2 separate regions of the Homo sapiens genome follow, and region 1 is linked to region 2. The links come from fine-mapping of genetic effects on gene expression. A gene starts in region 2. The other region holds a variant in brackets. All regions are shown on one strand. Distances are between the middles of the regions.

What was found. PIP is the estimated chance that this variant, and not a neighbour inherited with it, causes the effect.
Region 1: its variant is the best candidate, but not a certain one, in a credible set for the expression of AARS1 in blood mononuclear cells (TOPMed, PIP 0.59).

The regions. Positions count from the first base shown.
Region 1 is chr16:70,566,577-70,571,950 of GRCh38, forward strand. SF3B3 (splicing factor 3b subunit 3) reads left to right here. Exons shown (of 26, transcript NM_012426.5): 21 at 835-960; 22 at 1,707-1,919; 23 at 2,467-2,565; 24 at 3,430-3,573; 25 at 4,519-4,623; 26 at 5,097-5,374. The coding sequence ends at 5,237. Among named protein-coding and RNA genes, the nearest start is that of SNORD111, 31 kb to the left of the region's middle. The variant G/A (reference allele first, on the strand shown) is at 3,034.
Region 2 is chr16:70,287,221-70,292,594 of GRCh38, forward strand. It overlaps AARS1 (alanyl-tRNA synthetase 1), which reads right to left and starts at 2,286. Exons shown (of 21, transcript NM_001605.3): 1 at 2,201-2,286. It also overlaps a transcript of DDX19B not described here. RefSeq lists a silencer at 1,502-1,631.

The sequences.
Region 1 (5,374 bases), 280 kb after region 2:
ATTAAGATGGTAAACTTTATGTTATGACTATTTTACCATAATTTTTAAAATAAAAAGAATATTCTCTTCTCCACAATGACAGCATGTGGATTCCTTCAACCCTACCATAAGGGGAGTATCCTCTAAGAAATACTTCATAGACCCTTTTGCATATTAAATTTGTCTCTCCTTTACAACTGAGATGTCACTAGGCTGGGTGCAGTGGCTCACGCTTGTAATCCCAGCATTTTGGGAGTCTGAGTCGAGCAGGTCACTTGAGCCCAAGAGTTTGAGACCAGCCTGGGCAATGTGGTGAAACTCAGTTTCTACGAAAAATACAGATAATTAGTCAGGCTTGATGGCACATGCCTGTAGTCCCAGCTACTCGGGAGTCTGAGGTGGGAGGATCACCTGAGCCCAGGAAGTCCAGGCTATAGTGAGCCATGATTGCGCCTGCCACAGCCCTTCAGCCTGAGCAGTAGTGAGACCCTGTCTCAAAAAAAAAAAAAAAAGTCACTTTTCACTAGCATTTCTTTCCTGTCCCTCCACAAATTACAGTCACTTGGCTACTAAGGCTTCACTGTTGAAATAACACCAGTTAAACAGAGCACAAGCTCTGGACAGCAGTCGTCTGGTACCAGAACTTCTTGTCAGTTACAGCATTGATCCCTCTACTGAGTGAATGCAGCATGCGGAACTTGTTCACCCCAACACCCAGATTCATTAGCAAAATAAGCTCACTGGTGTGTTTCTTAATGATAGGCTCCTGTGGAAGTAGGCATTTCTGGGCAGAGAGGTGAGGCCTGTGTCTGGCTGGCATTTATAATAGCTGTATTACCTGCTTTTCCTCTATAGACTCCTGTGGAAGAGGTCCCTGCTGCTATTGCCCCATTCCAGGGGAGGGTGTTGATTGGTGTGGGGAAGCTGTTGCGTGTCTATGACCTGGGAAAGAAGAAGTTACTCCGAAAATGTGAGAATAAGGTAAGTGTGCTGGCATTGGTGCTGAGATCTAGCTCATGTGTCAAGGGTGGGGGCATTGGTGGGGTGGTGGGCATTGAGTTTTAAAATCTTATCTTTATTAGGACTTGTTGTGTTACCCCAATTCCAGCTTCAGAATTATGCCCTTGTTTTTTTGTTTTTTGGTTTTTGAGACGGAGTCTCGCCCTGTTGCCCAGGCTGGAGTGCAGTGGCGCAATCTCGGCTCACTGCAACCTCCGCCTCCTGGGTTCAAGCGATTCTCCTGCCTCAGCCTCCCAAGTAGCTGGGATTACAGATGCGCGCCACCACGCCTGGCAAATTTTTTGTATCTTTAGTAGAGACAGGGTTTTACCATGTTGGCCAGGCTAGTCTCTTAACTCCTGATCTCATGATCTACCCGCCTTAGCCTCCCAAAGTCCTGGGTTTACAGGCGTGAGCCACCGCACCGGCCCTTGAGTTTTGAGAGGAGCAGGAGTAGAGGGATCTCATTTCTTGACTTACCAAACAAGAACCAGCTTTCTATCTTGCTAGCTTCTATAAGGAAAGTAAATGTGAGAGTTAGGCATATATTTGCACTATATTAAAAGCTATTTGGCTCTTTTTTCCCACCTAGAATTCATTGCTAACTGCTGGTTTTTGGTATTTGCTGTTCTGCTGACCCTACGTATGTCATACGGAAAGCTGGGCTTTCTTTGGGTTCTGAACCCCAAGATTACACCCACCATCACTATTGTCTTTGTTTTTCCCAGCATATTGCCAATTATATCTCTGGGATCCAGACTATCGGACATAGGGTAATTGTATCTGATGTCCAAGAAAGTTTCATCTGGGTTCGCTACAAGCGTAATGAAAACCAGCTTATCATCTTTGCTGATGATACCTACCCCCGATGGGTCACTACAGCCAGCCTCCTGGACTATGACACTGTGGCTGGGGCAGACAAGTTTGGCAACATATGTGTGGTGAGTTGATGTTGTTAACTTGGGTTACAGTGATGTGTAGGAAAGCTGGCTCAGTTTCTTGTGGGTAAAGCCAAGGAGGAATCAAATCTGAGAAGTAAAAATGGATATAAAATTCCATCCTACTAAAGCTAACTCTACAAGCAATCTGTTCTTTAAGCCTTCTTACTAGTCTTTTGGATTTTTCTCTGTGGTTTATCTCCCTCCTCCCTATTGAACGTGATTTAATGATAGGTTTAGTTTGAGCTAATGGCTAATATTTCTTTTTACATTTTATAAGAACTTTGGAATGTCTGTTATCTATGTTGTGTGGTTTTGGTTTTACCCTTAGCTGTGTTAAACTCTTGCTCATGGGTCGATTCTTTTGAGTTTCTTGCTCCTCAGACACAGCTCCTGCCCACCAGAGCAGGTGCAGGACACGTGGGCTCAGGCCTCTGTCTAGGCAGTGCCCCTGTGGCTGACTTGCAAAGACCTGGCCAGACCTGTTGCTTGGTGACTCAGGTGAGCAGGTCCGGGCCCCAGCAGTGTGACTTGTGTCACTTCCTTGTAGGTGAGGCTCCCACCTAACACCAATGATGAAGTAGATGAGGATCCTACAGGAAACAAAGCCCTGTGGGACCGTGGCTTGCTCAATGGGGCCTCCCAGAAGGTAAGATTGCAGAATGGGCCCCAGGGAGAACACTGCTTAGCACTTTTCCTGTTGCCCTCACTGAAGAAATTGCCTTTGGTGAATTATTCATAGTGCACACGACTGTGCTGAGTGCTGTCCGTCCACAGTCCTTTCTTACCAATCTGCAAAAAATCTCCTTGGAGAGTAGCGAGTTTCTTAGAGAGAGTCCATTCCCAGTCCTCTGCTCTGAGGTGTGTCCTGGGCTTTACTTTCTCCTGTAGGCATGTGCTGCTTTAATAGAGCATCTCTGGACTTTCGGGCAAATCTATTTTAGAAGACAAGCCTAGTGATTGCTGTTTTCTATAATTTTCTTTGTGTTTTCCTTTTTTATGGCAAGCTTGATAAATTTAACAAAATGATTCTTATCGTAAGAAATGATGAACAGTAACTTTAGCATGTTTTATGAGGCATTAAGCTTTAAGTAAATGTGAGAATTTTAAAATATTT[G/A]TAGGGTTTAATAATTTTTGGATTTATTGTTTGTTTTTGAGACAAGGTCTCACTCAGTCGCCCGGGCTGGAGTGTGGTGGTACAATCACAGATCACTGCAGCTTCCACCTCCTGGGCTCAAGTGATCCTTCCCACTCAGCCTCCTGAGTAGCTGAGACTATAGTACATGCCACCAAACCTGGCAGATTTTGTGGGTATGGGTATACGAGACCTCACTGTGTTGCCCAGGCTGGTCTTGAAATCCTGGGCTCAAGCAATCCTCCCACGTTGGCCTCTATAATAATTTTTGGATGTTAATAGATGATGAAATGTGCCTTAGGGAGCACTGCTTGCCCTTGGGAGTCCAGGGAGGCTCCTGAGGGTGCACACAGTCACTAGTCTGTTTGTGACTCACAGGCAGAGGTGATCATGAACTACCATGTCGGGGAGACGGTGCTGTCCTTGCAGAAGACCACGCTGATCCCTGGAGGCTCAGAATCACTTGTCTATACCACCTTGTCTGGAGGAATTGGCATCCTTGTGCCATTCACGTCCCATGAGGTGAGAGCGCCCACATTACTCTGGCCTTGACTTTTAAGGTTGTTTCTTGGTGCTGGATCTACCTAAGAGGTCAAATTCATTTGTCCCCACATATAATTAATAATGTTCTGGGAATTATAAAGTGACAGAAGTACTTGGGGAGATAGGAATCTTGATTCTCCCGCACCCAGGGAAGGCCATTTGGTTTTTTTTTTTTTTTTTGCGACGGAGTCTCACTGTTACCCGGGCTGGAGTGCAGTGGCGCAATCTCAGCTCATTGCAAACTCCACCTCCCAGGTTCACGCCATTCTCCTGCCTCAGCCTCCCAAGTAGCTGGGAATACAGGCGCCCGCCACCATGCCCGGCTAATTTTTTGTATTTTTAATAGAGATGGGGTTTCACCGTGTTAGCCAGGGTGGTCTCGATCTCTTGACCTTGTGATCCGCCTGCCTCAGCCTCCCAAAGTGCTGGGATTACAGGCGTGAGCCACCCGCGCCCGGCCAGGCCGTTTGTTTTTATAGTGTCCCAGGGTTTGCTTCAGTCTGATGCGAGTTTACAAGGTTAGCCTGAGCCCAGAGCTTTAGAACTGGACTCCACAGACTAGGATTGCCAGGATTGATGGGATGATCCCTCCTGGGGCACACACTGCCATATGGAATCAACTCTAGGTTTGCCAGAGTTTGGCATGTTTTATTCCAGCCAAGGAAGCTGGGATCAGGAATCTGACCTCACAAACCATTCTTTATGTGTGGCATTCTCTCTTGCACTGCAGACAACATGTGGTCTCCTTTTGGGGTTTAACTATCGTGTTGTAGCAGAAAAACCTGTGATTATCAGAAAGTGATTAGATATTTCCCGTGTGTTTGTGTAGTAAAAATGAATGGCTTGTCTGTTCGTTGTGCTTGTGGAAACTCTAGACTAGTTGAAATCACTTCTCAGTGACAGATTTTTTGTTTCTTCTGCCAGGACCATGACTTCTTCCAGCATGTGGAAATGCACCTGCGGTCTGAACATCCCCCTCTCTGTGGGCGGGACCACCTCAGCTTTCGCTCCTACTACTTCCCTGTGAAGGTAGGTTGGGGGAATCTGAGCTGAAAAGGGAGATCTGAGAAAGGAGCAGCACAGGGAGTGGATTGATGGGAATAGTACCAGGGAGGGTGCTCCCCTCAGGGCAGACCACAGCCAGAGCAAAGGCTTCACCTGCTTCTGCCAATCTGAACTCTGAGTACCAAGAGTCAACTTAAGATAGTGTTCCTGGATCTACAAGTGGGGTTCAAGTATCGAGTGGAGAATAAAAAGTTTTCCCGGTCTGGGCGTGGTGGCACACATTTGTGGTCCCAGCCAATCGGGAGGCTGAGCCCCAGATTTTGAGAGTGCAGTGAGCTAAGATTATCCCACTGCACTGCAACCCGGATGATAGGGTGAGACCCTGTCTCAAAAACTAAAAAATAAAAACAGCTTTCCCTACAAGTGCTGCTTTAGCATGTGCCATTTTCTTTGGGCATCTCACCATTTTTTTTCTTTCTGCTTTCTCCATATCTTAGAATGTGATTGATGGAGACCTCTGTGAGCAGTTCAATTCCATGGAACCCAACAAACAAAAGAACGTCTCTGAAGAACTGGACCGAACCCCACCCGAAGTGTCCAAGAAACTCGAGGATATCCGGACCCGCTACGCCTTCTGAGCCCTCCTTTCCCGGTGGGGCTTGCCAGAGACTGTGTGTTTTGTTTCCCCCACCACCATCACTGCCACCTGGCTTCTGCCATGTGGCAGGAGGGTGACTGGATAATTAAGACTGCATTATGAAAGTCAACAGCTCTT
Region 2 (5,374 bases):
CTCCAGCCTGGGCGACAGAGCGAGACTCCGTCTCAAAAAAAAAAAAAAAAAAAAAAAATTAGCTGGGCATGGTAGCGGGCGCCTGTAATCCCAGCTACTTGGGAGGCTGAGTCAGGAGAATTGCTTGAACCTGGGAGGCGGTGGCTGCAGCGAGCCGAGATCATGCCATTGCACTCCAGCCTGGGTGACAAAGCGAGACCTGTTTCAACTTTTTTTTTGAGGCAGGTCTCGCTCTGTCACCCAGGCTTTACACACAGGTCTCGCTCTGTCACTTTGGGAGGCTGAAACAGGAGGATTGCTTGAGGCCAGGAATTCAAGACCAGCCTGGGCAACATGGGAACACCTGAGCCTGGGAGGTCAATTTTTTTTTTAATTGGCCAGGTGTGGTGGTGTGCACCTGCAGACCCAGCTACTCGGGAGGCTGAGTCCAAAGGGTCGCTTGAGCACATAAGTTTGAGGCTGCAGTGAGCTATGGTCACACCAAAACATTCCAGCCTAGGTAACAGGGTGAGACCCTGACTCAAACAACAACAAACGTAAAGACACTTTTTCTTTTTTTTGAGACGGTGTTTCGCTCTTGTAGCCCAGGCTGGAGTGCAATGGTGCGCAACCTCGGCTCACCGCAATCTCCACCTCCCGGCTTCAAGCGATTCTCCTGCCTCAGCCTCCTGAGTAGCTGGGAATACAGGCATGTGCCACCACACCTAGCTAATTTTGTATTTTTAGTAGAGACGGGGTTTCTCCATGTTGGTCAGGCTGGTCTCGACCTCCTGACCTCAGGCGATCTGCCCGCCTCGGCCTCCCAAAGTGCTGGGATTACAGGGGTGAGCTACCGCGCCCGGCCAAGACACTTATTTAAGACAGCCTTCCCCTTCTTCTTTTTTTTTTTTTTTTTTTTTTGAGACGGAGTCTCGCTCTGTTGCGCAGGCTGGAGTGCAGTGGCGCGATCTCAGCTCACTGCAAGCTCCGCCTCCCGGGTTCACGCCATTCTCCTGCCTCAGCCTCCCGAGTAGCTGGGACTACTGGGACTACGGGCGCCAGTCACCACGCCCGGCTATTTTTGTATATTTGGTAGAGATGGGGTTTCACCGTGTTAGCCAGGATGGTCTCAATCTCCTGACCTCGTGATCTGCCCACCTCGGCCTCCCCAAGTGCTGGGATTACAGGCGTGAGCCACCGCGCCCGGCCGCCTTCCCCTTCTTGATAAGGCTCCCCCTCTTTTACTGTCTCACAGCCTCAAGTGTTTCCCTTCATAATTTCCATACGCGCTTCATGGATTGTTTAATGTGCGCCTCCCCCATCAGGCTGTCAGTTCCATCCCAGCAGCAACGACTGTTCTGGGCTCTTTTTTTTTTTTTTTTTTTGAAACGGAGTCTCCCTCTGTCACCCAGGCTGGAGTGCAATGGTGTGATCTCAGCTCACTGCAACCTCCGCCTGCCGGGTTCAAGCGATTCTCATGCCTCAGCCTCCGGAGTGGCTGAGAGTACAGGCGCGCGCCGCCACGCTCGGCTAATTTTTGTATTTTTAGTAAAGACGGGGTTTCACCATGTTGGCCAGGCTAGTCTCGAACCCCTGACCTCAGGTGATCCGCCCGCCTCGACCTCCCAAAGCGCTGGGATTACAGGCGTGAGCCTCCGCGCCTGGCCCTGGGCTATTACAGCACATCCTCAGCATCTAGTACAGTGGCTGCTAAATACGTATTTCGTGATCAGGTATACTAATCCTTTAACACCAAGTTCGGAATTAACTCACATGCTTCAAAGCACACCGAGAAATACAAACTGTTTTACAGAACAGCTTAAGATGACGGTCTCGGTGCGCCTGGACCGGCATCAGCTGTTTAGTTAATTTTAAGAAATCAAGGAATGGCTGGCTTACAGCAGGATTGCACCCAGCTGGCCCATCCTTCCTCCCGTGCCCCCACCCGCCCCTAGGGGATTAAAACCAAGGGAGCTAAAACCCCAGGTTGGCAACCGTGAGGTATTGGTGCTCAGCAAATCCACCCGAGGCCGCGACACTCGCAGCGCTCCCGGGGGCGAACGCAAGGCCACACTGTCCAGCTCCCGCTCCAGCCCAGACTGGGCTTCTCCAGGCCACGCGGGGCCTGATCCTGGGGCCCACTGCGGCTGCGGAGCTTTCCCCCCAGTCTGCGGGCCCAGCCGCTCTCCTAGCACCGCAGAGCTCTCCGAGGGCGGCCTACCTCTCCTAGGGTCGCCGTCCCCAGCTCCTCCCTCAGAGTCCCCCGCCAAGGGCCCGCTGCACCTATTCCCGCAGACGCGCAGCTGTACCGGCCTCAGACCACGACCTACCACAACCCGCCACGCTCCGTCCAATCAGAGCGCGCCGACGGAAAGTGCCCCGCCGCGCCTTACCTCATGAGATATTATTGGTCAACCAACATGCCAGTCAAACTGAGGACGAATCCGTTCATTAGTGGATTCCTGGGAAGGCGGCTCTAACTTGGCTGATGCAACTGCGAGAAAAGGTGGGATGGGGTGCGTCACATGATCGAGTTAGACCCCCCCCCGCCCCCCCCGCCCCCCCCCGCCCCCGGCTCCCGGAGGTCGACATTTTGGTTTCCATAGGCAAAGTCCTAACACCACAATTGACATAGTTAAAAAGGGGAGACGGTAACGTGTTTGGTAGAGGTTACATATCTTGCTATAGTTGTTTATTTTAGTTGCTGAGTGATACACAGCCCTCAAAGAGTCTGACATTGTGCCCATGGTTACACTTGTCCGGGGGAGACCTTGAATTTGGTGTGGAAGAAATAACATCAGTAGTTCAGGTACGATTGGATCAGCATCTGGTCCTCGATTTGCCTTTGGAAAAAAAAAAGTTAATATTTATAGGCCTGGGGGAGGAGGGTGAATATATATATATACATATACATATATACATGCCAGGTGCGGTGGCTCACGCCTATAATTGCAACACTTTGGGAGGCCAAGGTGGGAAGATCACCTGAACCCAGGAGTTGGAGACCAGCCTGGTCAACATAACTAGACCCTGTCTCTACGAAAAATTTTTTAAAAGGCCGGGCGCGGTGGCCCACACCTGTAATCCTAGCACTTTGGGAGGCTGAGGCCAACGGATGACGAGGTCAGGAGACCGAGAGCATCCTGGCCAACATGGTGAAACCCCGTCTCTACTAAAAACACAAAATTAGCCGGGCGCGCATCTGTAGTCCCAGCCACTCGGGAGGCTGAGGCAAGGGAATCCCTTGACCTCGGGAGGCGGAAGTTGCGGTGAGCCGAGATGGCGCCACTGCACTCCAGCCTGGCTACGGAGCAAGACTCCGTCTCAAAAAAAAAAATAAAAAATAAAAATTAGCCAGGCATAGTGGCGCATGCTTGTAGTCCCAGCTACTTGGGAGGTTGAAGTGGGAGGATCACTTGAGCCTAGGAAGTTGAGGCTGCAGTGAGCCCTGATCGTGACACTGCATTCCTTGGGCGACAGAGCGAGGCCCTGTCTGAAAAATATGTATGTATTTATACGTGAGGCATTGCATCAAACATTTCACATGCTTATTTCATTTGATTTTTAAACTGTGTATGAGGTCAGCTGGAGTCCCCTTTTTACAAATGAGGAAATTACCTTGCACAAGTTCACACCCAATAGTAAGTTGTGGAGACAGGATCCAAACCTGTGTCTATTTAACTCCAAAGCCCATGCTCTTAACCACTGCACTATTACCTCCATCATCTGATATATCCAAATACACGGGTAATAAATTGTGCTGCTGGTCATAACTCAAGTTACAGACAATACAGAAAAATACTACTTTTTATGCAAAAAGAGCATCCTACACAAAAAGAAGGTCAAGCCCAAAAGCCAGTAAAAACATAAATCATTTGATTTACTTTCCCACTTCATAGCTGCTCACAAATAGTAATCATCAAACCTACCATTTATTGAGCACTTAGTATACAGCAGGCACCAATCTAAGCTTTTAATCCTCACAACCTTATCATGAGTTACTACTACTATCTGCTTTTAACAGAGTAAAATAAGGCAGAGAGAGAGGTTAAGTAACACAGCTGAGGGCAAAACCAGGAGACACAAGTGTTTATTCTGATCCACAGTGCCCTAAATAACATATATTTAGCTTAAACAATCTGGGAAATGAGTCAGACTTCTAAGCCACCACACTTAAAATAGAAAGCCAAAAGGTATGTATGAATTGTACTTTCAGAATAAAATAATACAGGTTGTAATCTCAATAATTTAGTTCTGCTGCCAGAGTTGTTACTAGGATAGTACCTTCATTAATAAAATAATTATAAACAGATTAAAATAATTTTTTGGCCTAGCGTGGTGACTCATGCCTGTAATCCCAGCACTTTTGGGAGGCCTAGGCAGGCAGATCATGAGGTCAGGAGATTGAGACCATCCTGGCTAACACGACGAAACCCCGTCTCTACTAAAAAATACAAAAAAAGTAGCCGGGCGTGGTGGCGGGCGCCTGTAGTCCCAGCTACTCTGGAGGCTGAGGCAGGAGAATGGCGTGAACCCGGGAGGCGGAGCTAGCAGTGAGCCGAGATCAGGCCACTGCACTCCAGCCTGGGCCGCAGAGCGAGACTTTGTCTCAAAATAAATAAATAAATAAATAAGAATTTTTTATTCACCCATTAAGAGAGATTGTAGGCCAGCACAGAGACTCACACCTGTAATCCCAACACTTTGGGAGGCCAAGGCAGGAGGATCAATGGAGCCCAAGTGTTTGAAACCAGCCTAGGCAACATAGTGAGACTCTGTTAAAAAAAAAAAATTCTTTTTAATTAGCTAGGCGTGGTGGCATTCGCCTGTAGTCCCAGCTGCTCAAGAGGCTGAGGAAGGAGAATCACTTGGAGCCCAGAAGCTGAAGGCTTCAGTGAGCTGAGATCTCGCGACTGCACTCCAGCCTGGGCAACAAAGCAAGACCCTTGTCTCTCTCTCTTTTTTTTTCCTTTTTTTGAGGCAGAGTTTCACTCTTGTTGCCCAGGCTGGAGTGCAATGGCATGATCTCGGCTCATGTCAACATCTGCCTCCTGGCTCAGCCTCCCGAGTAGCTGAGATTACAGGCGCCACCACCACGCCCAGTTATTTTTTTTTCTTCTATTTCTAGTAGAGATGAGGGTTTCGCCATGTTGGCCAGGCTGGTCTTGAACTCCCGACCTCAGGTGATTCGCCTGCCTTGGCCTCCCAAAGTGTTGGGATTTCAGGCGTGAGCCATCGCGTCCGGCCCCCTTGTCTCTTAAAACAAAAAAAAGAAAGAAATTGTAATTGAGGCCCAAAAGTCTCATTCTAATATAATTATCTAATGATATTTTTCTGTGATATTTTTCTCTTGTAGATGTCAACTACATGCTAGAAAGAATGCTATCTTAATGCA